Homo sapiens: one gene and its partners. The protein of the gene in region 4 interacts with the protein of the main gene of each other region in a pairwise test. Each region holds a gene or a part of one and is shown on either strand. Other genes may lie near its edges. The genes, in order: CRX, LATS2, RBPMS, GLIS2, OIP5, ZRANB1 and FOSB.

Evidence for each region.
Region 1: the proteins of GLIS2 (region 4) and CRX interact in binary tests that used the Homo sapiens proteins (3 or more experiments, as listed by UniProt).
Region 2: the proteins of GLIS2 (region 4) and LATS2 come close enough for resonance energy transfer, tested with the Homo sapiens proteins (one large-scale study listed by BioGRID).
Region 3: the proteins of GLIS2 (region 4) and RBPMS interact in binary tests that used the Homo sapiens proteins (3 or more experiments, as listed by UniProt).
Region 5: the proteins of GLIS2 (region 4) and OIP5 interact in binary tests that used the Homo sapiens proteins (3 or more experiments, as listed by UniProt).
Region 6: the proteins of GLIS2 (region 4) and ZRANB1 interact in binary tests that used the Homo sapiens proteins (3 or more experiments, as listed by UniProt).
Region 7: the proteins of GLIS2 (region 4) and FOSB interact in binary tests that used the Homo sapiens proteins (3 or more experiments, as listed by UniProt).

The regions. Positions count from the first base shown.
Region 1 is NC_000019.10:47,820,677-47,824,736, forward strand, and holds the start of CRX (cone-rod homeobox protein), read left to right. Parts: upstream 1-1,260; 5' UTR 1,261-1,334; intron 1,335-4,060. UniProt on the Homo sapiens protein: Transcription factor that binds and transactivates the sequence 5'-TAATC[CA]-3' which is found upstream of several photoreceptor-specific genes, including the opsin genes.
Region 2 is NC_000013.11:20,988,587-20,992,086, reverse strand, and holds part of LATS2 (serine/threonine-protein kinase LATS2), read left to right. Parts: intron 1-682; coding exon 683-815; intron 816-2,782; coding exon 2,783-3,500. UniProt on the Homo sapiens protein: Negative regulator of YAP1 in the Hippo signaling pathway that plays a pivotal role in organ size control and tumor suppression by restricting proliferation and promoting apoptosis.
Region 3 is NC_000008.11:30,391,041-30,394,540, forward strand, and holds part of RBPMS (RNA-binding protein with multiple splicing), read left to right. Parts: intron 1-3,500.
Region 4 is NC_000016.10:4,319,067-4,322,566, reverse strand, and holds part of GLIS2 (zinc finger protein GLIS2), read right to left. Parts: intron 1-3,500. UniProt on the Homo sapiens protein: Can act either as a transcriptional repressor or as a transcriptional activator, depending on the cell context. Acts as a repressor of the Hedgehog signaling pathway. Represses the Hedgehog-dependent expression of Wnt4.
Region 5 is NC_000015.10:41,312,183-41,315,591, forward strand, and holds part of OIP5 (protein Mis18-beta), read right to left. Parts: intron 1,173-3,409; coding exon 1,091-1,172; exon of another isoform or gene 1-1,090. UniProt on the Homo sapiens protein: Required for recruitment of CENPA to centromeres and normal chromosome segregation during mitosis.
Region 6 is NC_000010.11:124,966,123-124,969,622, reverse strand, and holds part of ZRANB1 (ubiquitin thioesterase ZRANB1), read right to left. Parts: intron 3,030-3,500; coding exon 2,842-3,029; intron 1-2,841. UniProt on the Homo sapiens protein: Ubiquitin thioesterase, which specifically hydrolyzes 'Lys-29'-linked and 'Lys-33'-linked diubiquitin. Also cleaves 'Lys-63'-linked chains, but with 40-fold less efficiency compared to 'Lys-29'-linked ones.
Region 7 is NC_000019.10:45,470,996-45,473,337, reverse strand, and holds part of FOSB (protein FosB), read right to left. Parts: intron 2,145-2,342; coding exon 2,037-2,144; intron 788-2,036; coding exon 326-787; 3' UTR 1-325. UniProt on the Homo sapiens protein: Heterodimerizes with proteins of the JUN family to form an AP-1 transcription factor complex, thereby enhancing their DNA binding activity to gene promoters containing an AP-1 consensus sequence 5'-TGA[GC]TCA-3' and enhancing their transcriptional activity.

The DNA of each region.
Region 1 (4,060 bases), on a different chromosome or scaffold from region 4:
AACAGAAGGACATGGAGGCTGAGGGAGAGGGGAGAAAGAGCAAGATAGACAGGGAGACACAGAGAAAAAGAATAAGAGAGACCAAGGGGATAATGCAGGTTTATCAACAGAGACAGGGACGGAGAGGAGCAGATGGAGAATGAAAGAGTGGTATTCAGGAAAGTAGGCAGAAATGCCACAGCCTAAGGCCCACAGGAAAAGAAACTGAGGTACAGAGAAGCCAGACAAAGACCAATGGTGTGTAGAGAGATGGTGAGTGCTGGGTTTGTTGGCTCACGCCTGCAATCCCAGCACTTTGGGAGGCCGAGGTGGGAGGATTGCTTGAGGCCAGGAGTTTGAAGCCAGCCTGGGCAACATAGAGCGACTCCATCTCTACGAAAATAAAAAAATTAGCTGGGCATCGTGGTATGTGCCTGTAAAGTCTCAGCTACTGGGGAGGCTGAGGAGGGAGGATCCCTTGAGCACAGGAGGTCAAGGCTGCAGTGAGCTGTGATCATGCCACTGCACTCCAGCCTGGGCGACAGAGTGAGACCCTGTCTCAACCAAAAAAAAAAAAAAGGAAAAAAAAAAGAAAAAAATCCCAAACCCCAAACTCCACCAAAAACAGAAAAACAAAACACCCTTTCTAATAAGTCTGCCTATTTTCAGTGCTGGAAGCAGCCCCTGCCACCTCCGCCCCCAAAAAGAGGAGAATATCATGTCTGACAACACAGAGACAGAGAGGCCACAGACAAGACTTGACCAAGTCAAAGAGAGAGAAACAGGGGAAACTGAGGCAGAAACCGAGACCAATGAGGCACTACAGAGATAAACTAGCTGTCGGACAGACTGTTGTGGAGAGAAAGGGGGACCCAGGAGAGGGATCCCGAAAGCTCCGTGCCTCTCTTTTTTCAGACGATCTCTCAGGACCATCTGACAGTGCTCTCCTTCCTCTTTGATGCCTCTCTCTTGGGATACTAGCTGAAGCTGGAGAGACACCAGTTAGACCTAAGGAAGGACTTCCCTGAGGAGTAGGGGCTTATGGTCACCGGCAGGAGCTGGGGCCTCCCTTCCCCATCAGCCCTAATTGCCAAGATGTCATGGGGGGAAGAGGAGGGGATTAAGCAGACGGGTGCCCCTCCCCCTCCCAGCCAATGTCACCTCCTGGTGCCCAGTCGAGTCCCCCACCTTGGCCGGGATTACCCTCCGAGTTCCAGGCCATGACAAATGACATCACTCCCGGCCCAGGCTTAAAATCTCCCCATGTGAGGGGATGTGTTTCCTTCAGCCTCTGCTGTCTGGCCGCTCTGTCTAGGTCCTGGGCCACGGGAGAGCCCCGTCCCTCCTTTCTGAAGGTGAGCGTCTGCAGGAGAGGCGGAGGGGACCGAGGAGGGGAGAAAAAAGAGAGGGGAGAAGTTGGGTTTATCTTATTCGTGGCTGTGTTTGCCGTGCTCTGCAGGTGATGTTTGCTGAATAGTCACACACAAAACAGAGGTGCCGTCCTGGCATTTGTGGAAACGGGGCTAGGCTGTGATTGCAGCAGGAGGGAGTAAGGTTAGACAGCAGGGACTGGCTGATGGCACTCGGGGCATTGGGAGGATTCAGGGTGGCTTGTGGGCAAGGGGGTCCCCTCAAGCCCTGACGGCATCCGGGGTTGGGGGCTTCTCACCGTGGTTCTAAGGCAACTCCTCAGCATACCGCTCTGTTGGATGTTCTTTAAAACTCTTAGCACTGCCTGAAATTTTCATTTGCGCGATGATCCACAAATGGCCTGTCTCCCTCCCTTGTTGAGCACTGATTTTTCCCCAGTGCCCAGCGTGTGGTTGGGATTTGCCTAAATATGTGTTGCATAGATGGATGGATGAATGACAGACAAGGGACGGAACAGACATATACGCAGAGAGCCCAGGTCTGTGGCTGCAACAGGAAGAACTCCGGGTGGACTTGGGCCTGCCCGAGAGAGCCAGGAATGTGATGACTGGGGATCACTGTGCTGGTGAATTGATCACTTAGGGCCTCAATGCACCCAGAGGCTCTGGCTTTCAGCCCAGGCTCTACTTCGGGACTGGGGAATCCTCACGCCCCCGCCCTCTTAGCTTCCAGCACAGTCACTCTCTCTGATCTTCTTTCTGCAAAGTTTTTTTTTGTTTGTTTTTGAGATGGAGTCTTGCTCTGTTGCCCAAGCTGGAGTGCAGTGCCACGATCTCCACTCACTGCAACCTCTACCTCCTAGGTCCAAGGAGTCCATCCACCTCAGCCTCTTGAGTAGCTGGAATTACAGGCGCGTGCCCCCATGCCCAGCTATTTTTTGTATTTTTAGTAGAGATGGGGGGTCTCTCCATGTTGTCCAGGCTGGTCTCGAACTCCTGACCTCAAGTGATCAGCCCGCCTGAGCCTCCCAAAGTGCTGGGATTATGGGTATGAGCCTCTGCGCCCAGCCGGTCTCCTGCAAAACTCTTGATTGACACCTTGTTTCCCGTCTGCCCCTGTCAGGAGGGCTGAGGCCTTGTCTGTCTTGCTCTCGGCTGTATTCCCAGTGCTTGGGTCAGTCCTAGACACACAGTGAGTGCTCAGTGAATATGCAGGGAATGAATGAATGAATGAAGGGCAGAAGGGTAGAAGCAGGTAGACAGACTGCCACAGAGAGGAGGTGTGATGCGGTTTTCCCAAAAGGAACGAGCGAGGGCTGTGATTGCCACAGAGTGAGGTCCGACTTCAGGGCTGCCCACTGTGTGTGAATTTCTGGATGCTTCAGGGATCACATTGTTGATCACGGAGTTGATTTGCTCAGGCTCTAACTGTGCCGTGGATCCCAGCTTCCCCCAGGTCTCATGGCCGGCAGTGGGTGCATCCACCCAGCTCCTTGTCCCCGCTGGACAGAGGAGCCAACAGAGGCTGCAGAGAGAGGCTGGAGTGGCTGACAAGGGAGGGCCCTGAATGTGGCTGAGCTGGGAGGGTCTTGCCAAGGGCTGGCATGAAGCCACATGAGTCTGGTTTTTTTTTTTTTTTTTTGAGACGGAGTCTCACTCTGTGGCCCAGGCTGGAGTGCAGTGGCATGACCTCAGCTCAGTGCAACCTCCACCTCCCAGGTTCAAGCGATTCTCCTGCCTCAGCCTCTCAAGTATCTGGGATTACAGGCGTGCACCACCATGCCTGGCTTATTTTTGTATTTTTAGTAGAGATGGGGTTTCACCTTGTTAGCCAGGCTGGTCTCAAACTCCTGACCTCAGGTGATCCACCTGCCTCGGCCTCCCAAAGTGCTGGGATTACAGGCGTGAGCCACCACACCCGGCCGAGTCTGCGTTTAAATCTTGTTCTTTTCTCACTGTGTGGCCTTGGACCCCTCATGTGGGCTCTCTGGGCCTTGGTTGCCTCCTCTGCAAAGTGGGGACAATGATAAGCTGTCACCATGATCCAGCCAGATGAGCCATATTGCAGGCCTGGCCTGCAGTGGGAGCAGGGCAGGAGACCAGCCTCATTCTGTTTCTAGGGTCCCTAGGTAGACTTGGGGGTGAAGAGCGGGGCTCGGGGGCCAAAGAGATTTAAATTTTACCCCTGGTTCTTCCACTCATCACCTGTGTGACCTCGGGAATTGACGAAACCTCTTTCAGCCTCAGTTTCCTCCTCTGAGAAAGGGACCTCTGAGCTCCGTGGGGCTGTGGGGAGCATCCTAAGAGGCCATATCGCCGGGTGATCAGGAGGGCACCGGCTCCGGGGCAGGTGCTGGCCCAGCTCTGGCTCTGCCGCTGACGTGCGAGACAGAACTGGAGACTACACTTCTCTCAGCCTCAGTTTCCTTCTCTGTAAAGTGGGGATGATACCAGAAGCCGCCTGGGAGGAAGTTTCCATGGAGTTACTGTTGCCTGAGATCTTGTTCCCAAGGTCCATGGTGCATGCAGTGTGTGAGAAGCTGGGGCCCCCTGGAGGTCCTTAAGGTCATCAGCCACCTGAACTGTGGGCACCTCCCTCCCTCCCAGGCTCAGTCTCCCCCGCTGTAGAATGGAGTTATCTGCATGTCTGCCCCACCAGGTGGCTGTGAGCATTCAGACCTCACCTGTGGGAACAACTGCTCAGCTGGGAA
Region 2 (3,500 bases), on a different chromosome or scaffold from region 4:
CTGTGGCCCTCATCCATTTTACCTGCCCTCTCCCGTGGTGGCCACCAGTCCCTGTGTTCTTCCCACAAGCAGTTTGAGCTACCTGTCCTGGACCGGTGTGGCTCCATGGGCCCCTGTTTTGTCTCCTTTCTTTCTTCTACGAGTCAGATCTCTAAGGGCCAGTCCTCCGCTGCTATAGCCAGCATGGGGCATTGTAAACAGTAGGCGTGTAATATATGACTCTTCGGCAGCTGCACCCTCTCCCTGGGGACAGGTTTCCTAGTCCCAGAGTTAGCCTGGAGGTGAGCTGAGGTTAAAGCCAGGTTCCCTGACTCCCACAGTTCTTCCCCTTAAATGTTTCTAGTTTTAGGTTCATCCTGAACTCACCAGTCCAACCACAAAAGTTTTCTGAGGAGAAGCAGAATTTAAGTCTCTTTCAGGCCCATCATCAAAATTCCCATATGTCCTTGACATAAGGCTAAATAGTCTATGGTGTGGCTTGTGCTAGGCTTTTGCCATCAGGTACCTGCAGGGCACACAGCCACCTGCACTCATTCTGAGGGTCTCCTGCAGCATATCGCAGGTTCTCAGCAGTACAGAGGCGAAGTGTCCCAGCACAGTCCAGCACGGAGTGGGGATGGGAGTCTTTGGTGGCTTTGTTTTAGGATGACATGCACTTACCTCTCCTTTACTTCCCTCCCAGGAGATGGCTGGCCGAGCTCTCAAGCAGACTGGCAGCAGGAGCATCGAGGCCGCCCTGGAGTACATCAGCAAGATGGGCTACCTGGACCCGAGGAATGAGCAGATTGTGCGGGTCATTAAGCAGACCTCCCCAGGTGAGCCCAGGCCTGCAGCATAGTGGGCAAAGATGGTTTGTGGCTTAAGGACAACAAAACCACGTGCAGAGGGGTCCAACCTGGCCTGGCCTGGCCAGAGCCAGTCTCCTGGCACATTGCCTCATTCAGTTAACAGGCAAGCTGAGCCTGCCCTGCCCTGACAGAGTCAGGCCCTGGCGGGAGCAGCCCCAAGTGGTAGACCGTGGGACACGCCTGGCGCTTGCCCCATCCAGCCTTGTCTGAAATTACCTTAGTACTTCCTACCTAGGGGAAGGTGTGTGCTTGTTTTATGAAAGATCAAAAAAGTCAGCAAAGCGGGCGTAAAAATGGTCTTTTCACTTTCTCTTGGGCCTGTGGAGGGATCTTTGACAAGGGTGGCTTCTTTCCTCAATTCTAAAACACACCTCTCTCACATCGTAGCTTCTGAGAGTGGGGGTTCAATGGCAGGCAGTGTGGGCAGAGCGCTGGGCCCCCCTCAGCATCCCCTGTGATGGGCCTGAGGCACCGCACCAAACCCCTGCTTTTTACTGGCTATGGATGAATGTTACTTTCCCAAGATGGAGCACATGGGCCCTGTGATTGGTACCTGAGGCCCCTGGGGTGTGATAAAGGATTCATGGCCAGGCGCAGTGGCTCAAGCCTGTAACCCAACACTGTGTGGCCTGGTTTTGTTTTGCTTTGTTTTGTTTTGTGTAATCCCAACTCTTTGGGAGGCTGAGGCCAGAGGATGGAGGCAGGAGTTGGAGACCAGCCTGGGCAACAGAGGGAGACCTCGTCTGTATTTAAAAAAAAAAAAAAAAAAAAAAAAAATCCTAGTAATTAGCAAGAGTTTTCCCTATTTTGTGGAAGACCTTGGATAAAACCTACTTCATGTGGGTGAGAAAAATCTCACCTTTGTAAGTTATATCTCCATTGTTAAAAGGACACACATTTTTGTTTTCTTCTTAAGAGAAGGAACTTCCTTAAATAGCCCCCAGCTGGCCATCCATGTCAGAATTCTTCCAGTTTTGAGGCCTTAGAGCACAGCTCAAAGGGAAGGCCAGGCCCATGTTCCGTGCTGATTTCCCTCTGCACTTGCCTTTGGTGTGTCTCTTCACTGACGTCTTCTGGGCCCAGGGAAAACAAAGCCTTGGTGTGCCTGTGACCTTTGTTCAGTGCCAGGCTGTCAGGGCCTTCACTCTGCCAGGTATCGGGGTGGTCTTCCTGTGGGCAAGGCCCAGCCTTTCCACCCTTCGGCACCCTCTGCTAAGCCGAGCCAAGTGGAGCAGTTGGCCTGAAGAAATGAAAGGAACCTTTGTCCTTCCTTCCGGTGTCTGTTTCAGATGAGATGTACAAAATGGAGGTCAGGATTAAGGTAGCAGCAGATGAAATCAATCTGGATATTTGTAGAGGGGTTTTGTGTGGTTTTTATTATTGTGTATATATTGCTTTGTTTTAATATAGACAAAAAAAACTAGAAAGTCTTTTAATTTGGAAAAGAGGTGAAAGAGAAGTGGAGCAGCTGCTGCACAGTGGATACAGTTCTGCCCTTTCTGTGAGGGAGCAGCGCTTTGGGAACCGTGTGTCGGTAAACTCAGCCCCCCACAATTTGGGCATGATAGGGTTTTGAAAAAGCAAAGCTGGCTATGCAGACGGCTCCCTAGCCTGACAGGAGAGTGACCCCAGTGTGGTCCCCAGGGGGCAGGGACGCACCTCGGGATGTGGACGCAGTCTTCTCTTCTGCCCTTGGCCCTCCCATGTGCCCTTCAGCTTGTCTCCACTCTGCTAACACATTAGGGCAACTGGTCCTGCTGGCAGGGCAGAGGGGAGTCCACTGACCCTGTGCTGGGCAGAATGCAGCACGTCAGGGCCCAGGGTTCAAGACCCTCAGCCCCGAGGGCAGCGCTAGAGTGGGGACCAGCCTGGAAGTGCCAGAACCCACTGATCACACCCACTCTGATGCTGTCTTCCTGTTTTTTCCACTGCAGGAAAGGGGCTCATGCCAACCCCAGTGACGCGGAGGCCCAGCTTCGAAGGAACCGGCGATTCGTTTGCGTCCTACCACCAGCTGAGCGGTACCCCCTACGAGGGCCCAAGCTTCGGCGCTGACGGCCCCACGGCGCTGGAGGAGATGCCGCGGCCGTACGTGGACTACCTTTTCCCCGGAGTCGGCCCCCACGGGCCCGGCCACCAGCACCAGCACCCACCCAAGGGCTACGGTGCCAGCGTAGAGGCAGCAGGGGCACACTTCCCGCTGCAGGGCGCGCACTACGGGCGGCCGCACCTGCTGGTGCCTGGGGAACCCCTGGGCTACGGAGTGCAGCGCAGCCCCTCCTTCCAGAGCAAGACGCCGCCGGAGACCGGGGGTTACGCCAGCCTGCCCACGAAGGGCCAGGGAGGACCGCCAGGCGCCGGCCTCGCTTTCCCACCCCCTGCCGCCGGGCTCTACGTGCCGCACCCACACCACAAGCAGGCCGGTCCCGCGGCCCACCAGCTGCATGTGCTGGGCTCCCGCAGCCAGGTGTTCGCCAGCGACAGCCCCCCGCAGAGCCTGCTCACTCCCTCGCGGAACAGCCTCAACGTGGACCTGTATGAATTGGGCAGCACCTCCGTCCAGCAGTGGCCGGCTGCCACCCTGGCCCGCCGGGACTCCCTGCAGAAGCCGGGCCTGGAGGCGCCGCCGCGCGCGCACGTGGCCTTCCGGCC
Region 3 (3,500 bases), on a different chromosome or scaffold from region 4:
GTCATTAGGAACCTCCATTTGCGAGCACAGGTGAGCCTGCCTGGTCCATCAAATAGCCACTGCTGGAAAATTACTTCCATCCCTTTGTCATTAGGAACCTCCATTTGCGAGCACAGGTGAGCCTGCCTGGTCCATCAGATAGCCACTGTCAGTGTGGGACTGCTTGTCCCAAGGTGCATTTGGGTTTTCACCATTAGAATTTGGTTTCTGCTGTGGAATTCCATTTGACCTTTTGGACGAGGGCTTCCAGAAGCCTTGGTTAGGTGGAAGAGCATGGACTCCCTGTGTTCCCAAACAAGCCTGCTCTGTGTGACAGCCACTTTGGAATGTTTGTGTTCAGTTTCATTTGGCACCTTAGTGTCTGCCTGGGGGTAGGGGAAAGGGAATGCAAATGTTCCTCTTGAACAGTGCTTGCTTTGGTCAAAGAAAAAAACTTAGGAAGGAATGAGGAGAATGAACCTTAAAAGCTGGTGCAGAAGTGGCTGCATAGCTCAGTGGGCTTGAGGCCATCTGGGACCAGGTATTTAAAATGGATGCTATGTTGGTATGAACAAGTCAGTTCCATGCCCCTGGTGGGGATGAGCTTATTTGTCATATGGGGATAACTCCTCACACTCACATCCCTAAAGTGTACCAGGAGAATATTGTAAACAATTTTATTGCACTATATTTTCTATGTTTGGCGGTGGAGGTGGGAGGTCCTTGATATTATCTGAAACATGAAGCTGAGTAAAGGGGATATGTCTGTGGTATCAGAAGAAAGCTGCTTGGCTTGTCAGTGTTGCTGATAGCAGGAAAAAGGAAATACTGAAATCTTTAGCCTGCAGAATTGTCAGAAATCTTTTTATCTATTCATTAAATAATTATCTCCTAACTTTTATTGAGTATTTACTATGTGCCAAGCTGATGAAGGGATTATGATGATTGTGCTGCTTTGATGGGGAAGTGGCTGAAGCCCTGAAAAGCTATGGAGCCAGGGTCTTCATGTGCAGATTCTAGAGATGCCAAGATCTGAGAGAGGCAGTTCCTGTCTTAAAGTTGCTCACAGTTTAATGGTGATGCCCCTGTATGAACAAACAGGTATAACCACGCCCGAGGTTAAAGTAGAGGTAGTTGAGTTGAGCACAGCCAAACCTGCAAGGAAGGGATGGAGCTGTGTCACAGAAAGCTTTAAAGAAGTTTAAAGAGTCAGTTCTTTAAAGATGACGTATGAGCTAAATCTCAGTTAAGATTTTGACTGATGAGAAAAGGGTTCAGACAGTGGGGAAAAGATGGGCTAGGCAAGGAAATCGCTCTGTGAATGAACACACAGAGGCTTCAAAAGACCCTTTTGGGGAAGAGCAAGCAAGGCATGGCAGGAGAGAAGAAGGGGAAGGAAGAATGAAACTGGGGAGGGGGCACTGGCCCACAGTGGGTGGAAGAGCTGCCTCTGCATTAGGGAATTGGACTTTGTCCTCTGATGGGGCACCAGGGTGGATGTGCCCCAGAAGGCAGCAATCTAGGACGTCCCAATGGGCAGGGGGATGTGGCGAATTTTGGAAAAGTTGTTGAGAACCATTCTTGCAGTGAGGTTTCTGCTGCAAGAGTCCTGGTCTCAAAGTGAGGCAGCAGCCTGGCAGTGGCAACTGAGGCAGAGATGCCAGGTGTTCAGGGCCTAGATAACTGTCAGATGTGCGGGAGAGAAGGCAAGGAGACAGCCTAGCAGCCTTTTGGGTTTCTCCTTCGGGTGGCTAGCTAAGTGACGGTTGTATTTGTAGGAATAGAAAATAGAGATGTGGAAAGGGTAAGAAAAGAAGGTACCTAGGAGATGAAGATGTTACTGAGTCTGGGGTGCAGAGGAGAGGTCTGATCTTGAAATACGATTTTCAGAACAATTCAAGAACATAGAGCTGATAATTGAAAGCGTGCATACTGGGAGTGAGTGCCCAGAAAATGGAATTCCTGCTTTCTAGGAAACGTTGTGAGGGTTAGCAAGGAAAGAGATACAAAATTTAGTGAAAATTTAGAGTCATGTTAAAAAGTGTTTGGGAAGGGGAGAGAATTGAAAATAATCAAGAAAAATGGAAACTTAAAAATTAATTTAGGAACATAAAAATGTATTACATATAATCTGCCTGTTTTTAAAGGGTTTGGTATACTTAGCCATTGGAAAGCCTGAGGGGGAGCTTAGAAAAATCTGATATATGGTCTTTCTCATATGCTTTTTTTTTTGCTTTGCTCAAAACTCAGGAACCTGTTTATAAACCTCCCAAACTTGCCATTAATTCCCAGGCTTTTACTTCTCCAACTCTCCATTTGCCAACCCTGCACCTAAAAGGAAAGATCAAGCTACCATAAAATCTGGAGAGGCGTGAGTTTTTTTACAGGAAAAAATTTCTAAGTTGCTTTTATCTTTTTTGACTTTTTTGGGGAAAAGGAAGAGTAGGATGAGCCTTTGGCCAGCAGCCCAAAGACATCTAATCTGTGGGTTATATTTTCATTTTCTTTTTTTTTTTTCTTTGAGACGGAGTCTTGCGCTGTCACTCAGCCTGGAGTGCAGTGGCGCCATCTCACTGCAACCTCCACTGCCTGGGTTCAAGCAATTCTGCTGCCTCAGCCTCCCAAGTAGCTGGGACTACAGGCACACGCCACCACACCTGGCTAATTTTTGTATTTTTAGTAGAGACAGGGGTTTCACCATATTGGTCAGGTTGGTCTCAAACTCTTGACCTCAGGTGATCCACCCGCCTCGGCCTGCCAAAGTGCTGGGATTACAGGCATGAGCCACCATGCCTGGCCATATTTTCATTTTATTCAATTTATACTTTAAAAGTTTGCTGCCTTTTTCAGCCCAGCTAAGTGTCAGCTCAAAGTAGTCCAGGAACTTAAAAAGAAAACAACTTGCATTTGTATTTCTCTTAGGTTTTAACTCTACTGCACCTATTATGGTGACGGTGCATATTGTGTAAATGCTAAAGAGAAAAAGGAAATGGCAGTGATAAATGCCAGTCACACCGAGAAGATGGATTCACATTCCAGGTTGTAATACAGTATTGTTACACAAATTTAAAATGCAAAGGGAATGCTTAGCCAGTTCCATTCTGTCAGCCTTTAGGGTTTTGCAAAGGTAGGAGACATCTGAGAATCTCCAAAATGAGGTCTGGCTCACCAACCTCTGCAAATAAGTTATAGGACAACTTTACTTTTAATTAACTTTTATTTCTCATGAGTTGATTTTTTTGTGACGTTCCTCTTGATTTTCCCAGATTCTCATGTCACCAGGGTAGATAGGCTGGCAGTGGCCAATGTTGTTCTAAGAGAAATCCTAAAGACTACCCAATTTTTTTTTTTCTTGAATCCGCAGGATCCTGTTTTGTGAAAATTCCTCTTACGCCCACCTATAGGATAGACAGTGGAGGCCCCCCCTGGGAGAAAGTGTACACAGAAAGTGCTATCTAATTACAGAAGTAGCAGAATTTCCTTTGTGCTCAGAGGGGAAGTGCTACAAAAGTGTAATTACT
Region 4 (3,500 bases):
AAGAGCCTTGGGGAGGTGGGAGCCCTGCGGGTCGGCGCCCGGTCAGCATGCCTGCTGCACACAGTCCATCACCCTGATGACCCCGCGAATGGATGCCATTTTCCCCATTTTCCATGTGGGGAAACCTGCCACTGTCACAGCCAGCAAGGGGCACAGCTGGGTTCGCCAGCAGACCCCAAAGCCCAGTGCCACAGAGGACCAGAGGCTATGGCCCGGCTGATCTGCAGTGACCCTACCAGTCATGGAGTAGACGAGGAGGCAGGAGAGAAAGAGGCCCCTCAGAGAGGCTGGGACAGAACCTAGAGGGCACTGGGGAGCCACAGAGGGCTCTACACAGAAGAGTGCCACCTGCTCTCTCAGCCCAGAGCCTCCTGCCCCAGGCCCTCTCCTTTGGCACCCCCCTTCCTCAGGATCCCCTGCCCCCTGGGAACCTGATGCTCCCAGGTGCCAGCTCCTCCCTCACCACCATCCATGCCCCCCTGTTCTCTTTCCTCCAGCCACCATCCCCTTCTGCCCCCTCCTCCACCAAGTGCTCCCTGGTTCACCCTCCCCAGCCTCGGTTTCTGGAGCTGCACACAGGCTGTGGGTCCAGGTACCTGAGGGCCTGCTGGGCAAAGACTTGCCTCTGTCCACCCCCGCTGGAGGCAGGCTGTCCCGGGTCCAAGTCCTTGCCAATGCATCACTGAAGCCAGTGTCACCTGTGCACAGCGTGGTGTACACAGCGCCGACCTTCAGCCCCAGGCCTCCCACTGGCCCTGGTATCCAGAGCCTCCTTCCAAGAAGGGAGCCTGGGAGTGGGCCGGGACATGTCTGGGACGCCGGGCAGCTCCAAACCCGCTGTGGCTACTGAAGAGAAGGCCTCACCAGCAGACCCCTGCCCCAGTTCCCACGGCCCCTGGCACGGAGCCCACCCCATCCACCAGAGTGAACTGGGCAGTGAGGCAGGGAACCCAGAATGAGAAAACTAGGCCTGGGTTTCCCCATCCACAGGAGGGGGCCTGCTGAGAGGACAGCCGAAGCTCCAACAACCCCAACCACTCATCTTAGGTGGCACAGTGGTACCTGCCCTTCACATATCCCAACACCTGGCACTCCGCGAATGAGTCCGTCTCATTCATGTATTCATTCACTCGACAGACATTCCCGCCTTTACCCCCAAGTGAGGAGGGGAGGGGTAGGTATGGAGGGGTTCGTGCCCAAAGAGGAATGTGACTTGCCCAAGGTCAAGGCTAGAAGCAGGGGCTGGTCTCCTGACATAGATGCCTCTTTCTCCCTGTCCCAGGCAAGGGACCCAGGAACAGAGCTGGACAAGGGTGTGGTGGCCCCTAGGAACCACCCTGGCCAGCTGGGATGGTGGGAAGGGCCCAGATCCCCCCCAGCTCCATCTCCTGCCACGCCCTCCCAGCCCTGGCCCCCAGCCCCAGATAGCTGGGCAAGAGCAGGCCCAGCAGGGCACCGCACACACAGGACTCCAGCCCATGCCCTCCTCCTCAGCCACCCGCCCCTCTCTGCTCGCCTACTCTGGAAGAAAGCAAGTCCAGAAGCCGGGGACAGCCTCCAAAGCCATCGAGGTCCTTTTCCTTCCAAAGGGGAACACCCACTGGCAGGATCTGCCAGGCCTGGTGGCTCCAGGCCCTCGGGGCCCAGTGGCCCTAGAACCAAGCAGGGTGACCACTAGGTGCTCCGGGGGGTGCTGGGGGAGGCCGGGGCTGGCAGGGAGACGAGCACCAGCACAGGGTTGGGGGGACTTCAGAATAGGGAGGACAATGGAGGCCCCTACAGCCTTGCGGGGAGGGGACATCCCAGCTCAGAGTCGGTCTGCCTGGAAGTTGGGGTGGGGAATGGGGGCTCTGGATGAAGGTGGGAGTGGCCCAGGGGAGAACTGGCCCAGGCAGGCCGGGACTTGCTAGACAGCCCCAGGCAGACGATGCAGGGAAGGGGAGAGGCTTCTTCCAGACACGTTGGCCCCCGTCATGCCCTTGCAGTGGACGTGGGGGGCAGGAGTGGAGCTGGGGGGATTCCCAGGCTAAACCGACATTTCAGGGGTCAGGGCCAGACAGCCCCAGACTCCAGTTCCCCTCTGTTCTTCCCCGATTGGGAGTGACCTCGGGCCAAACCCTCAAATGTCTCAGAGCCTCAGTTTCCCCCCACCGGCCTCCGACGACCTCTTGACTACCAGGGTCCAAGCGAGGCTGCCCTGGGAGCGTGCTGTGCCAGCGGTGGGGACCCTCCATGTGACGGGCAGGACTGTTTTCCGGAGGCTCCCGGCCGGGGGCTGACTCAGTCCACTCAGCGGTCTCCTGGGGCCTCTGCTGGCTTCCCACCCGCCCTTGGCCATGACTGGAGGAAGGGGCCAGGGCTGGGTCTCCGTCCCTTCCCCGGCAGCCATCTGCCAAGGCTGGAGTCCGTGTGCACGCACATGTGACACTCACAGGCCGGCCCCTCCCTGCGGTGGGCACTACCTGGCCTCTCAAGCACCGAAGACAAAGGGCACGAGGAGCCCAAGTCACCCGCCCCCCAGCCATCGAACTGGAAGAGTCTCAGCCCCCACCCATCCCCCAGCAGGGGCTGCTGGGGCAGATGGGAAGCCCCCACCCCTCAGCTGGAATCACTTCCCATCTCCATGCCCCCCAGGCCCACTTAGCCTGGCCACCAGCTAACCAGAATCCTCCAGCCCATCTGGGGGAGTGGGGGAGTGGAAGGCGAGTACCCGGCCTCCGTGCCTGCCCAGCCTCACCCAGGGGCTAAGCCGGAGCCAGGAGAGAAACCTGGGTCTCCTCCAGGCTGTGCCCTGCAGACCCTGCCACCATCATCACCATGATCCCTCTCCAGTCCCTGGGATCAAAGCAGTGCCCCCACGCTGGCCCCCCAGCAGAGTACTAGAGGTGCTTGTTGGAAGCGCGGAGTCCCCGCCCCCAGCCACGCCTGACTTAGAATTCACCAGGGTGGGGCGGAGGCGGCCACCTCAGAAACCACTGAGAGGCAGATGTGGCCCGGGAGACTCGCTAGGGCTGTGGTCCCCACACCCAGGGCTGGCAGCAGGCTGGGGCAGGGCGCAAGTTCCCAGAGACGTGAACCCCCAGATACACATCAGGGCCTCAACCCATCTCTGTGGACCCTTTCATAGCCCCTGGGAAGGGAGGCAACTTAGGCAGAGGGTGGAGAGCATCTTTCAGCTGGTCCCACAGATCCCCTAGCCAGCAGGGAGAGGGTCTCTTACTGCTCAATACACAGCCCCGCCAAGCTGGGGATGCCCCCTACCCCTGAGAAGGGCATTTATCTGGGTGAGGGGAAGACCACCCAGGACCTTCCGGGGTTCCCCTGTGGTCTCAGTCACCTGCTGTGAAATAAAGTAACAATTATAGCCATGAGGAGAGGAAGGGATTCAGGGGACACTTTTCTCTGCAGCCACCCCCGCCCCAATTCCACCCAGCACAGGGCCTCTCCCATGGAATCAATTTCCTCCTTAGGTGCCAGAGACCCCTGGGCCTCCCCTTAGA
Region 5 (3,409 bases), on a different chromosome or scaffold from region 4:
CAGATTTTCACTCTTGTTGCTCAGGCTAGAGTGCAATGGCATGATCTTGCCTCACAACAACCTCTATCTCGCAGGTTCAAGTGCTTCTCCTGTCTCAACCTCCCAAGTAGCTGGGATTACAGGCATGTGCCACCACGCCCGGCTAATTTTGTATTTTTAGTAGAGACAGGGTTTCTCCATGTTGGTCAGGCTGGTCTCGAACTACTGATCTCGGGTTATCCATCCGCCTCAGCCTCCCAAAGTGCTGGGATTACAGGCGTGAGCCACCACGCCCAGGCAAGAATTATTTTTTTTTGAGACGCAGTCTCGCTCTGTTGCCCAGGCTGGAGTGCAGTGGCGCAGTCTCGGCTCACTGCAACCTCCACCACCTGGGTTCAAGCGATTCTCCTGCCTCAGTCTCCTAAGTAGCTGGGATTACAGGCGCCCACCACCATGACCGGCTAAATTTTTTTTTTTTTTTTTTTTGAGACAGAGTCTTGCTCTGTTGCCCAGGCTGGAATGCAGTGGCGCAATCTCAGCTCACTGCAACCTCCACCTCCCAGTTCAAGCAATTCTCCTGCCTCTGCCTCCCGAGTAGCTGGGACTACAGGCACGTGCCACCACGCCCGGCTAATTTTTTGTATTTGTAATAGAGATGGGGTTTCACTGTGTTAGCCAGGATGGTCTCCATCTCCTGACCTCATGTTCTGCTCGCCTTGGCCTACCAAAGTGCTGGGATTACAGGCGTGAGCCACCACGCCCGGCCAGGAATTCTTAATAACTGTTTCATCACTCTTATGTCTGAGACAGTTGAGCAATTACAAGGTATTTGCAAAGAAGACACCTCTATGGCAAGATGATGATATCCATTCCCAGCACAAAGGAGAATGCAGGAGTGCAGCAGTTGAGCAGCTTTTCCTTTCTTCCTGAACTATACCTTACAGTGTGGTTTTAGTATTTTGTTTTTCATTACAAATTCAATAGGGAAGGTCAAATCAAGTAAAAAGGATTATTGAGCATCATGCCATTTCATCATCCCCAAGTTCATTGGTAGAAGTTATCAAGAGTTGTCTGTATTTTAAAAAAGCATACAACCATCATGAAATTTTACCTCTGCAATCTTTTCTGATAGAGGAACATTTTGAATATCCATCTCTGATGCATTTACTATGGCTTTTGTTTTTAAGAGATAGCTAGATAGGAAAAAAGAAAAATATTAGTGTCATACCATGGTTAAGATTATAAAAGAACCAAACTTACCTTCTAAAGAAAGTATGTGTCAAAAAAAGCCTGGCTTCTTAATGATTTTCATTTCAAGACTCATGATGTTACAGTTGGCCCACCATATCCATGGGTATAGCATCCATGGATTCAAACAACCACAGACTAAAAATATTCAGGAAAAAAAAACTGGATTGTGTCTGTACTGAACAGGTACACTCTTTTTCTTGTCATCATTCCCTTAACATTACAACAACTTTGTAAATTTCCTATGTAAATTTGTAATGTACATAGCATTTACATTACGTTAGCTGTCATAAGTAATCTGGAGATTATTTTAAAGTATAAAATATATACTTTTATACTTTAAAAAGGAGGATATCCAAAAGTAATATGCAAATATTACACCACTTAATATCAGAAACTTGAGTGTCCATGGATTTTGGTATCTGGTGAGGTCCTGGAACCACAGATACTGAAGGATGACTGCATTTTCTTGGAAAAACAAATTCAAAAATAAACAAATTGGAGAGGATCTCTGCCGCATCCCACCAGAGACAAAATTATCTCAGGGTAAATTAAAGACAAAAACCAGGCTCATATGAATAATTACGATGATTATAAGCTTTACACTTCATCAGTAGGATCCTGTAGCACAGTTTGAAAGAAAGTAATCCCAGTATGAGACATAGTGTTGGTCACCTATTCCCAGTAGCTGTTCCTCACTTTTTTTTTTTGAGATGGAGTCTCGCTCTGTTGCCCAGACTAGAGTGCAGTGGTACAATCTCAGCTCACTGCAACCTCTGCCTCCTGGGTTCAAGCGATTCTCCTGCCGCAGCCTCCCGAGTAGCTGGGATTACAGGCTTGCGCCACCACGCCCAGCTAATTTTTGTATTTTTAGTAGAGATGGGGTTTCACCATGTTGGCGAGGCTGGTCTCGAACTCCTGACCTCAGGTGATCCCCCTGCCTGGGCCTCCCAAAGTGCTGGGATTATAGGCGTGAGCCGAGCCCAGCCTTCCTCACTTCTTTATTGCCAACAGAATCCAGATTTTTGCCATGAGCCTACTGTTACATATTTGCTTTCTCAGATGAGGTGATCATGTGACATAGTTCTGGCCAACAAGGGTAAGAAAATGGGATGGGTGTGCTGGCTCACACCTATAATCCCAGCACTTTGGGAGGCTGAGGCAGGCAGATGGCTTGACATCAGAAATTTGAGACCAGCCTGGGCAACATAGCGAAACTCCATCTCTTTTTTTTTTTTTTGAGACAGAGTCTTACTCTGTCACCCAGGCTGAAGTGCAATGGCGAGATCTCGGCTCACTGCAACCTCCGCCTTCCAGGTTCAAGCAATTCTTCTGCCTCAGCCTCCCAAGCAGTTGGGATTACAGGTGCCCACCATCATGCCCAGCTAATTTTTGTATTTTTAGCAGAGACAGGGTTTCACCATATTGGACAGGCTGGTCTTGAATTCCTGACCTCAAGTGATCCGCCTGCCTCAGCCTCCCAAAGTGCTGGGATTACAGCTGTGAGCCAACATGCCTGGCCAGCGAAACCCCATCTCTACAAAAAATACAAAAATTAGCCAGATGTGGTGGCATGCCTGTAGTCCCAGCTACTTGGGAGGCTGAGTTGGGAGGATCACCTGAACCCAAAAGGTTGAGGCTGCAGTGAACCATGATCGCTCCAGCCTGTGTGACAGTGAGACCCTGTCTCAAAAAAAAAAAAAAAAAGAATAAAAAAAAGATTAAGAAAATTTATGCTGGCGGGGCGCAGTGGCTTATGCGTGTAATCCCAGCACTTTGGGAGGCCGAGGCGGGGGGATCACCTGAGGTCAGGAGTTTGAGACCAGCCTGGCAAACATGGTAAAACCCCATTTCTAATAAAAATACAAAAATTAGCAGGCTGTGGTGGAGCGCACCTGTGGTCCCATCTGCTTGGGAGGCAAGGCAGGAGAATCACTTGAACCTGGGAGGCGGAGGTTGCAATGAGCTGAGATCACACCACTGTGTTCCAACTTGGGTGACAGAGCAAGACTCTGTCTCAAAAAAAAAAAAAAAATTTATGCTGATGAAAAGGGGGAATTTTCTTGTGTTCCCATACTCTCCATATCCTTTTCCTTCATGTTTAGGATGCTATCATCAATAGATGTAATGACTGTAATTGCAGCAGCCATCCCGAATCCAAGAGGAAAAGGCCAAAGTTTCT
Region 6 (3,500 bases), on a different chromosome or scaffold from region 4:
CTTATTTTTTGTATTTAAAAACAGTATTCTGGGAAGGAGTCCATAAGTTTCATGAAACTACCAACATGGTCCATGACACAGAAACCGATGAAAATTCCTGCCCCACATACATATCCCCAACTCTAATGTTCTCCTGTTCTCATTCCAAAAGAACTTGGCTGAGCATTCTCTGCAACACACCCCCTTAGTCTAGACTTAGTCCAGACTCCCCCACTTCCAGTCTCCCTACTGGCCCCTTTAATTCTGTCCTTTGGAGTATTTACTCCATGGAGACTGAATCCATGACCAATTTTGCTCTTTGCCTGGAACAAATCCCCTCCACCTCTCCCACGCTGTTCCAGGGTTGTTCTACACGTCCCACGGAATACAGCAAAAGTAATGGTATGTTGCTTCCTAAATCAATTTATAAAAGACACTGCAGGTTTCAAAGACACTGGATCACTCTCTTGTACTCTGTGCCTCTCTTGGATCACTTGTTGGGGGTAAAACCAGCTGCTGTATCATGAGCATCCCTGTAGACAGGCCTGCATGGCACAGTATTGAAGCCTCCTGCCAAAAGCCACCTGAGTGGGCTTAGGAACAGATACTCTAGCCCCAGTTGAGTCTTTTGACAACTACAGCCCTGGACCACTTGACTGCAACCTCATGACATCATGAGCCAAAACTATTCAGCTAAGCAGCTCCTGGATTCTAACCCTCACAAACTCTGTGAGATAACATACATTTGTTGTCTTAGCTGCTAAGTTTCCAGACAATCTGTGATACTGCAATAAATATACTGATGTTCGATCATCATCCCACTGTTACTCCTCAGACTGTCTCAGGAGCTCAATGACTCACAATGGCCCCTCTAAAACCTTGTAATAATCTTCTACCTACCTTTAGGGGAGCCCCTTAAGACTTTCACCCTAGTTCACAACCACCTTCTTTATCCTGGCTCCTGTCACCACCAGCAACTACAACTCCACATTGACAGCCCTTCCAATATACAATAGACAACACAACTAGGCACCACAACACAAATGCAGCCAGGCCTTCGACACTAGAAAAACTCCAATTCTTCTATCTCATGTTCCAAAACCTGGATCCCTCTATCTGAAAAGTTCCCTTCTCCCTTATACTCAATAAGCCTGCCCTTTTGTTTTCATCATGGCCTTCAGTCTCTCAAGCCCCCCACCCCGGCTTCACTGGAATCTTACCAAACTGGACACAGGGGTTAGCTACTACAATCATGTTTCCATCTAACCTTCAAATTTTTTAATCCCCATACAGTGCCCTGCAGTGGTTCCCAAATATTGGCAAATTTGAATAAACAAATATGCAAAAGTATATATGAAAGATGTATACTGACAAAATTTGAATCCACAATTAATATGACTCTCTGCACTTTTACTCTATTTCTCTTACCATTAAAAAATGTTACCTTGGCCAGACACGGTGGCTCATGCCTATAATCCCAGCACTTTGGGGGGCCGAGGCGGGCAGATCACTTGAGGTCAGGAGTTCAAGACCAGCCTAGCCAACATGGTGAAACCCCACCTTTCTAAAAATACAAAATTAGCCAGGCATGGTGGCATGTGCCTACAATCCCAGTTACTTAGGAGGCTGACAAAGGAGACTCGCTTGAACCCAGGAGGCAGAGGCTGCAGTAAGCCAAGATCGTGCCACTATACTACAGCCTGGGCAACAGAGTGAGACTCCAGCTTAAAAAAAAAAAGAAAGAAAAAAAAAACCTGGATAATGTAGTCACATTCTGAATAATTCATACACAATCTCTATCATTGGTAGCATGTACCTAGTTATGTAAGCCAGAAACTGAAGAATCAACTTACATCCACACTGTATCTTCCCATATCCAATCAGTCTACTTCTTCAGACTGAGGGCCTGTCTCAGTCTCTCCAACCCTCTAACCCTCTTCCCATTTCTAAGGCTACCCTTCTGGGTACCCTTCTATGGCTACCCTTCTGCCCTTCTGGCAGAAGTTCTTGCCAGCACCTCTGCAACTCCCTCCTAACCAGGCTCACCCCTCTCCAGTGTGCAGCAGCCAAAACACAATCTGCTCTGCTCACTCCCCTGCGCCCATACCTAACACCATCCAGTGCCTAGGGATAATCTTCAAATTCCTTGACACAGAAGATCCTTCGTAATCCAGCCTCTGCTTATCTTTCAGACTTCCCTTCTCTCCATTCCCAATCACCATCTCAGCCATGCTTAGTTACCTGCAAGTCCCTAGATTCACCACAAATTCCACCATCTCTGCCCCCTGTAAAAATGCTTTCCTCAACTTCCCTTCTCTCCCTTATCCACTTCATGTGGCTAACTCCTAACTCTTTCTCTTCAAATTGCAGCAAAAACATTACCTGCTATAAGAAAGACGACAAGACACCTCAAAACTCTTCAAGTACTGGCATAACACTTGGCATTTACATCTACCAGGGCACAGGCTGCACAGAATTACCTGTTCATTTCTCTACTTTGCTGGAGATTTAATGAAGAAAGAGCCAGTATCTTTACAATTGTATCCCTTCTCAGCCTAGTGCATGGCACACAGTAAATGCACAATAAATATCTGTTAATTGAATGACTAAAGAATGACAGATACATCCCAGGTTTGTATGAACCAAACATGATGAGTCAAACATTGTTGTGACTATTCAAATATTTGAAAGCATATACCCTTAAAAATTAAGTCTCTTAAGTTTAATGTTATTTTTAAAAGGGGGTAAAAGAATTCAAAACATTTTAAAGCTGCTTAGAGAAACATTATAAAATCAAAAATGAAAACTAAAGAACAGGTTTCTTTAATATAAAAGAACATTTAACCAAAACGCCAAACTTACCTCTGTAAGCAATATTGCTAGCATATCCTGCCTCTGAAAACGTATAGCCAAGTGTACAAGAGTATAGCCAACATCAAAGGCAGAAGGACGATTCAGCAAGCGTACTTCATCTGCGGTGAGCTGACGTGCAATGTCTCCTCCTGATGACTTGTATGCTTCTATGGCAGCTAAATCACCTTCTACAACCCCTAAAACAAGCATCAAGATAGAAAAGCATTTAATTCTCATTTTCTTCAAAAAACACAAACCGTAGCAATCACTCCAAAATCTTTTAAGTGTTTCTCTGTGCTTCCTGGATCCTGATGCATCATTTAAATGTCCTATAAGAGTAAGGAAAATAAGTTTTTTCCTTTCCCTTTAAAAATTTTCCTTCCAGAACTAGAACTGCCTAGACATTTACCTTACCATCAGTGCAGGCTCCAGGCTCTGGTGAGATTTAGAGGAACTATTAGGCTGCATGAATTGGATCGAAGATCAATAATCTAGTATGAGAAACCAGACGTAACAAGAGACACTGAGCCCCTGGTTCCGGTCCTGCGTTCATCCTGACTCTGCAGAAACCAAGGAGACAGGGATGTGCTTCCAGCTGGTGTTGAGCTCCTCCTGCCCTTTACACTGCATTCTTAAAGCAGAATCAAAACAAATGCTGAGCTTTCCAT
Region 7 (2,342 bases), on a different chromosome or scaffold from region 4:
CCCCTCCCCACCCATCCCCAGAGCTTGGGTTGACGTCAGAGAGCCAACAGTCAGCTGGGGGTGTCCATCCCCTTCCCACCCCCTGTCCCCAAAGTCACCAGCTCTCCGGCCTCGCCGGGGCACAGAAACAAGAGGCAGGACAAAACACAAGGAATCCTCCTGTCCGATGGCAGTGGCGCAGTGGCCGCAGAGGGTCAGACGGAGGAGCCAGGGAGGCCACACACCCACTTTGTCTCTTCCCCTCTCTCTCCTCCTTCTCCTCCTCCTCCTCCTCTTCCAAGTCTCTCTCCCCCATGTGTTTGTTTGTTTTGTGTGTCTAAAGAGTTCACAGAGCGAGGAGGGAGGGCGAGTTCAGGGGATCGGAAGGCTGGTCACTGCCGCTGGTGCGTTGGGCGCCGGCGAACGCGGAGACCTCCGGGCAGGTGAGGACAAACGAAGAAGTGTACGAAGGGTTAACAACGGGGAAGGGGTCGCCGAGGACTTGAACTTCACTGTGTGTAAAGAGAGAAGCCGTCAGGTTGGGGGGTGCGTCTTGGCTGGTCTGGAAGGGCAGGGGCGGTGGTGGCGGGGGCGGCAGCAGCCAGCTGAAGCCATCTTCCTTAGCCGGTGCTGAGCCCGGCAAATCTCTCACCTCCGCCAGCGGGCCCGGCCCGGGCCCCTCTTCGTAGGGGATCTTGCAGCCCGGTTTGTGGGCCACCAGCACAAACTCCAGACGTTCCTTCTCCTTTTGGAGCTCGGCGATCTCCGACTCCAGCTCTGCTTTTTCTTCCTCCAACTGATCTGTCTCCTGAGGCCAGGGAGGCCAGGTCACAGAAGAGAGAGAGGAAGGAGAAAAAAGCATGTCAGTGACCGGGAAACTCGGGTCATGGCTCCCTTGGACTTGCTGCTGGAAGGCAGCCCCGGGCTGAGAAAAAACACCTCCTGAGATGGAGTCCTGGTGGCCATGGGAGTTGGGGCAAGGGTCTTGCCTTCCAGGAACCTCAGTTTCCCCCATCTGTCCAAAGGATGGTACAGAAGGGGCCAGGTTTATGGGGAAGTTTCTGGTGTGCAGGAGGTTTGTTGAATGAATGAACAATCGTTATGTGGTTGGTTTTGTTTTGCTTTTGAGCCAGAGTCTCGCTCTGTCCCCCAGGCTGGAGTGCAATAGTGCAATCATGGCTCACTGCAGCCTGGACCTCCTCGGCTCAAGCGATCCTCCCACTAAAGCCTCCATAGTAGCTGGGACCACAGTGGTGTGCACCACCATGCCCAACTAATTTTTTTTTTTCTTGGTAGAGACAAGTCCTCCCTATGTTTCCCAGGCTGGTCTCAAACTCCTGGGCTCAAGCAATCCTCCTGCCTTGGCCTCTCAAAGTGCTGGGATCACAGGCATGAGCCACTGTTATGTGTTTTTAATGTGTTCCCTTCTATTACCCCTCCCTCTCTACCTCCCGGGGAAGAGAAAAAGTAGAGAAGGAAAGTTGACAATTCCCTTGTTCCCTCAAGGAGTAACAGCTCACCCTGCAGGCATACAGCAGGGAACTCTCAGACCAAGGGAGGACGTAGGAAGGGAGTGGGTTTTGGGGGATGCCACCAGCACCAGGAGAGCTGTGGGTGGCTAGGGCAGGAGGTGGAATAATTTCATTTCACAGGCTTTCCAGAGTGTTAAGGGTAGAAAGAGCCCGGGAGATTTGATGAGGGTTTGCAGAGATGGAGAAACTGAGGCAAAATGGGTTGTTACTTGCTGAAGACCAGATGGGAGAAATGATGGGGGCGCCCCTCTCCTCAAGGGCCCCATGTGGCCCCTTGGGATGAAATGAAGGCTAGGAGAGTAGTCCGTGGGGTCAGGAAATGGGGGGGGGACCAGGAGTTGACTTAAGTCCATGGGGGTCTGTGTTTGTGCCCTGGGCTACCCAGTCTGGCCACAGCAGTACCTAGTTCCATGTGTGGAACGTCTAGTTCTCAACCCAGGATAAGGGTACAGGTGGAGAGGGGGCAGAGAATGGGGAGAGAGCTCCCCTCAACATCCCCTCTCCCACCCCAGGGCCTGTCCTCACCGCCTGGAGTCGGTCGGTCAGCTCCCTCCGCCGGTTCCTGCATTTAGCTGCTGCTAGTTTATTTCGTTCCCGGCGCACCCTTCGCTTCTCCTCTTCCTCTGGGGTGAGCTGAGTCAGGGAGATAGAGGCCATGAGATTTGGGGATACAGCACTCCTCCACCCATCCCGAACCTCTACTTCTTTCAGAACCCCCAAGAGCCAAAAAACAAGCCTCCGGTCCTCGCTCGTGTAGCAAGGATCTTGGGGTTTCTGTAACACTGAGGCCTTAGTGGAGCCCCCCTCCATTCATAAGAAACTTCCTGCCTC